Linked DNA regions of Homo sapiens: region 2 is linked to region 1. Evidence: fine-mapped expression QTL. A gene starts in region 1. The other region holds a variant in brackets. All regions are shown on one strand. Distances are between the middles of the regions.

Region 1 (2,897 bases):
ACACGAGAAAATATTCCTGAACTTGAGTTTCTATTTTTTTTCTTTTCCCTATTTGCCTTCTCAAACTCCCAGGTGTTAAAAAAAAGTCTCAAACTTAATGCACATTACAGGCTTCTTTTCTGACATACAAAAATCGTCATCTTAACCTAGTTTTCTTCTCCAAAGTGGTCAAGAGGGAAAACCTCAAGCTTTTATTCAGATCTATGTAAACCACTAGATTGCCTATCTGGTATTTCCTTTTGCAGAAAATCACTAGAAAACTAAATAAGACGAGGCAAAGTTTAGACAAGAATCTGATGGCTTGTTTCTCCGAGATGCAACCTTGGAGAGAGGCTTCCCCAGATTCTAGTCTGGATTCACTTTACTGCATGCTCTTCCCCGCTCTCTAGCTCAATACTCCGGAGAGAAATGAAACTTTTATTTGCTCGAGCAGAAAAAGAAATTAAGAAGGCCACGAACATGCAGCGGACTTGGAGCCCCTTTCTAGCAACAAACAGGCTCGTGCTCCTCCGCCCGCGTTGGTCTCCAGCTTCCCAGAGCCCCGGCGGGTTGCGAGGACCGCCCTGCTCGCCACTGCTCCCCACCGCTCCGGTACCGACACGTGTTCTTACTGCCAAGTTCGGCCGCAGGATGCTGAGCCGAGCCCCGCCCCGCTCCACATTTCCCAGGCTCCGCCTCTCCTGCCCCGCCCCCGGCACCGATTGCCAATAGCGCCCCGAGGCGTAGCCAGGTCCCGCACTCCCCGTGCCCGGCCCGCCGCCTTTGTTCTCCCCCGCTCTCCCTCTTGGCCTGTGCGCTCCCGGCAAACCGAGTGGCAGCCGCTGATTGGTGGTTGTGGCGCAGCCAATCAGAAGGGGGCACCTCACGTTAGGGCTCGGAGTTTTAAACGCGCAGCCGAGGGCCGCGCGCAGGAGTAGGGAGGGCCTAGGGCGGCGGAGCCGACTCGTCGCGGCCGAGGCGCGCGCGGTCCGTGCCGGCGTCAGTCTGGGATTGGCCGGCCCGCGACTTCCTCCGCCCCCTGCCAATCGCCGGGGACGACTTCCGTGGGTTTTTCCGGCTCCCCCGCGTCGCTAAGGAGCGACGGGCTGTCGGCCAGACCCCGAGTTCTCGGTGCGCTCAGCGGCCGCCGACGCTAGGAGGCCGCGCTCCGCCCCCGCTACCATGAGGCCCCGGAAAGCCTTCCTGCTCCTGCTGCTCTTGGGGCTGGTGCAGCTGCTGGCCGTGGCGGGTGCCGAGGGCCCGGACGAGGGTGAGCGGCAAGCGCGCCGCGGGTCGGGCTGTGCTTGCGGGGGCTGCAGAGCTGTGCGGGGGCCTGGGCCCTGCGACCCCGGCGGGCGGGCTTCCGCGCGGTCAGCTCCAGAACTAGTGATGGGCGCCGAGCCCGGGGTAAACTTGGCGGAGTTGAAGGGGCGGGGGCGGTGGCTGTGGCAGTGGCAGGATCGATTTGGGGTTCCCGGGAGAGGAAGGTGGCCGGGGTCTCTTGGGCTCCGACGCCCTGGAAGACCCCTGTCACCCGAGGCTGGGAGAGGGCTGCAGAGCGCCTTTTTTGCAGCTGGGTCCTTCGCCTTAATTTACAGATTTTCGTCAGGTCCAGGCTAACTCCAGGCGAACGCGCCCAGGCAGTGGGAAGGGAGAGGGAGAGCCACTGGAGAGAAGGGGCGAGGGCGTGAAGAAACAAGTGCGAGTTCTTTGGAACAGCAAGCATTCCTTTTCAAAATGTGGTCTGTAGATTTGGAAATGATTAATCCATAGATTCTGGAGAAAGGGATGGCTTGGTTTGCACCTTTGAGAAACTAGAGATACCATTCCTTCTGCATTTAGCATTTACTGTGTGCCAGTCCCTGTACTGGGTTCTGGGAGGAAAAGATTGTGAGTGTGGTCCCTGCCCATGAAGCGCGTACTCCAGTAGGAATAGTAACAACTACTTCATGGTCCCTGCATTTTTCTTCGAAGTGAGCTAGCTGCAGACATAAGAACTCTGAAGATTAGGAAGTGCTAATTAAGGAAAAGTTGTTATTCCTAGAGAATAAGGCATCCAGGTACTGGTCTTTACCTTCTTCCTCTCTGCCCTTACTTTTAATCACTAGCTTTTTAACCTTCTGAGTTTGTTCTAATATAAATATACACTCTTTGATAATGTTAGTGTGTAGGGAAATCGTGAACTTTATACTCTTTCAAACAGATTGAGTAACTTCTGCGTGGGTCACTGATTCAAAAAGAGTCTTTGCCCAAATAGAAAAGGAAGTAAAAACCCACACTCGGCGAGAAAAACACCTGCCGAAAGGAATCCGATAGCGGGACTGCTTACAAATTGTGTCTTGAGACCTTTACCCAAATCATGTTTGTTTAAATAGTGTTTATTTAAATACAGATACCCAAAATACACTGAAGCAGAATGCAGGGGTGGGCCCCGGAATCTGCGTTTTAAGTCAGTTTTCCCTTGAGACATAGAATTAACTTCGGGAGGCACAGTGAAAGTTGAGGACCAGTGTGGGTGGAAGATGCTTTTTGGAACATAGCGGAAAAGCATATAGCACTGTCTTGGTTTTGATCCAGTGATTCTGTTTTTGGGGGGATTCTTGAGAGGCCTGGGAGAGTGGCTTTAGGAGCTGTTAGGACCAGCAAGTTTATCCTTCCGGTCAGAGGTCTTTAACACAGAAGAGTCCCTGGGAAGCAGTTGCTCCTAGGGTGAGCCTAGGAATCCCAGGGGTCATCATGGCCAAGGGCAGGCCTCCTGGGACTTCTAGCTCCGTTTTTTTTTTTTTTTTTCCTAGATAAGGTTACGCATTGTTGCCCAGGCTTGAGTGCACTGTCCTGATCATGGCTTACTTAAGCCTCAAACTCCTGGGCTCATGGGATCCTCCTGCCTCAGCCTCCCGAGGAGCTGGGACTGTAGG
Region 2 (2,897 bases), 22 kb after region 1:
GGAGCTGTTGACCTTGGTGGGTGGATTTTGCCTTTCTTTCCATTACTGCACCCCTGCACTTCATCCTCCTAGAGTGTGACACACTCAGCCCTAGAGGGGCAGTGGGAGTTCCCAGCCCAAGGGGAACCTGGGGCCAGTTCAGCCTTCTGAGTGCTTTAGAAGGGGCCCTGCACTTCGGTGAGTAGATCTCAGATTTGGAAGGATCTTAGATGTCGAGTTTGAAGCTTTGGTTTAACAGAGATTGGGCTGCAGAGAAGTGAGCTCTACCCCCCACCCCAGACCCCACAGCTCCTGGTGGGAAGCAGAGCTGAGATTGGGGTGAAGGGGCCTTTCCAGGTCCTACTGGCCCATAGTGTCAGGACCCTGGCTGTTTGGGCTGTGGGCTCTCATGGGACCTGGAGCAGGGGGTGTGACAGGACAGGAATCCCGGGGGCCTGCACCAGAACATGGCAGTACCTTGGAGAGAACCACCCTGAATCTTTCTGGTCCCCATGTCCTCTGTTTCCTTCCTCAGTTTTTAGTCCTGTCCCTCTTTCTCAAGGTCTGTGTGTCCATCCCATCTGTTTCTCTGCCAACTTGAAGCTCAGGGCAACTCTCCTCTTCCCTGGACTCATAGTGGCTGCTGCGACCCCTCCCCCCAGCTTCACTTCCTTCCATCCAGAGATAAGATCCTGGGCCCAAAGAGGGGTCCTGATGAGCTTGGGGGGCCATTGATCCCGAGAATCGGACACAGCTCTGTGTGTGAGTGCATATTCCAGGAAAGGGGTCTGTAGCTTTCAGTAGACGCTTCAAGATCTATGCAGTCTTGTCTGTTGGGCACATTGCTGCTGCTCCCAGTTCTTCTGGCGTTTCCCTGCTGAGTGAAGTGCACGCAGCGCCATGTCATGGTTAAAGACTCCACGGCCTCCTGCCACCTGGGAGATAGTTGGATTATCTGTGCCTTAGCATGGCCTCCCAGGCCCTCCTTACCCACCTTTTCAGCACATCCCACCCTCCAGTGCTGTCACGCCAGATCCTGTTTGTGCCTCGTGCCCTGCCTCAGTCTCTGCTGCCTCCCTGAGTGCCTTCTGCTCCCTTCTCACCAGCGGGGCCCTCTTGTCCTTCAGTGCCACACAAGGACCCCTCCCTGAGTATCCCATCCCCACGGAAACCCTTGGGCTCACAGGCCCACCCACCACTTGCTGGCTGCGCAGCCTTGGGCAGGTGGCTGACCTTGCTCTGCCCACCCCTGGAGGGCGATGTCTGTGAGGGACTCCAGTCGTTGTGAAGTGTGAGCCCTCAGGACCTCCTGCGTGAAGACCGCACAAGCTGAAGGTGG[A/G]AAGTTCCACACAGCCCAGCCCGTGATAACCCTTCCTGTCTGCCAAGAGCCAGGCCTACCTTGAGTGGTCTCTTTGTGGGGTTAGTGAGCCTACACCCCCAAGGAAAGGGCCAAGGTGTTTGCCTTTTCCCAAGAAGCCACCTACGGTTCACTGGAGGGAAAGGAGCCCCAAAAGACGGTAGGGAATGACTGGGCTGTGCTTGAGTGGGGTCGAGCCCTGGGGTGTTTTGCCTCCTAAGACTGATCCCCTTCAAAGTCGCCACTCCCCCAAAGTCCCTCAAACATTGTACTCAAGAACAATGGTGGGGAGATGGTGGGCCCCCTCACCTGTTCCCTCTTTGAAGCAGGGCTCCACCCAGGACTCGGCCATCAAGGACTTCGTGCTGAAGTACGCCCTGCCCCTGGTTGGCCACCGCAAGGTGTCAAACGATGCTAAGCGCTACACCAGGCGCCCCCTGGTGGTCGTCTACTACAGTGTGGACTTCAGCTTTGATTACAGAGCTGGTGAGGGACCCCCACCAAGACCTGCGGGGGTGGGGGGTGGGGGGACTCGTTCTTTCAGGCAAGGTGGAGTGTTGAGGGGAGGTGTGGCTGTATGTACATGGCTCACTCAGAAATCCCAGCCTGGGGCCCTTGCACGTTGGTGGCTCAGGTATATTTTTTAATTGATGGCTTCCCTTTTTAGCAGGATGGGAGCTTAGATTCAGGTGCAGAACCCTCTTAGAGTTGACGTAGCTGAGACTTGGAGGAGTTCAGAGGCTGCAGAGCTGGGACTAGACCAGCCCTGGCCCCAGGCAGGCGTGGCCGTGCCACCTGGGCACAGGTCTTAAGGGCCTGTTGGGCTTGCAGCTGTGGCCCCCGTGACAAGTGGGGCTTTTCCAGAAACATGTTTCCCTCCAATTGAGGTAAATCCAGGGTTTGAGCATTGTCAGAATATTAGCGACAGGACCTGAAGCCTGACCTCAGAGTCTGAGCTGGGACTTGCTCTGTGTGGCCGCCTGGCTTATGGCCCTTGGTCCCTTTCAGCAACTCAGTTTTGGCGGAGCAAAGTCCTAGAGGTGGCCAAGGACTTCCCTGAGTACACCTTTGCCATTGCGGACGAAGAGGACTATGCTGGGGAGGTGAAGGACCTGGGGCTCAGCGAGAGTGGGGAGGATGTCAATGCCGCCATCCTGGACGAGAGTGGGAAGAAGTTCGCCATGGAGCCAGAGGAGTTTGACTCTGACACCCTCCGCGAGTTTGTCACTGCTTTCAAAAAAGGTGAGCCCGTGGCTGGGGCTGGGGTCTCCCATCAGCTGCTGTGCTCCTCGTGCGGAATCCAGACAGGCCAGGGGCGTCTGGTGCTCTGGCCACGGGCACGACACCCCCTTAAGTCAGCCAGCAGTCCTCTCTCACCCCCGAGGGACTCTGACTTCTCGTCCAGAGAAATGTCGGGTGTGACCCCAAACTCCAAGGCACCAGAATAGCTTAGAAGAAGGATTTGCAAGTGTTACTATTTTCTTCTTGGCAGTTCTCCCAGTGTTTACTTTGAAAGCAAAAGCAAGATTCGGAGTCCATCTCAGGGCTTACCTAGCATCAC

The links. PIP is the estimated chance that this variant, and not a neighbour inherited with it, causes the effect.
Region 2: its variant is the best candidate, but not a certain one, in a credible set for the expression of PDIA4 in whole blood (TOPMed, PIP 0.86).

Annotation. Positions count from the first base shown.
Region 1 is chr7:149,026,673-149,029,569 of GRCh38, reverse strand. It overlaps PDIA4 (protein disulfide isomerase family A member 4), which reads left to right and starts at 1,065. Exons shown (of 10, transcript NM_004911.5): 1 at 1,065-1,249. The coding sequence starts at 1,162. RefSeq lists silencers at 573-1,152, 1,223-1,292, 1,383-1,432 and enhancers at 757-1,350, 1,351-1,945.
Region 2 is chr7:149,004,822-149,007,718 of GRCh38, reverse strand. PDIA4 (protein disulfide isomerase family A member 4) reads left to right here. Exons shown (of 10, transcript NM_004911.5): 8 at 1,666-1,822; 9 at 2,345-2,578. Among named protein-coding and RNA genes, the nearest start is that of GHET1, 19 kb to the right of the region's middle. The variant A/G (reference allele first, on the strand shown) is at 1,319.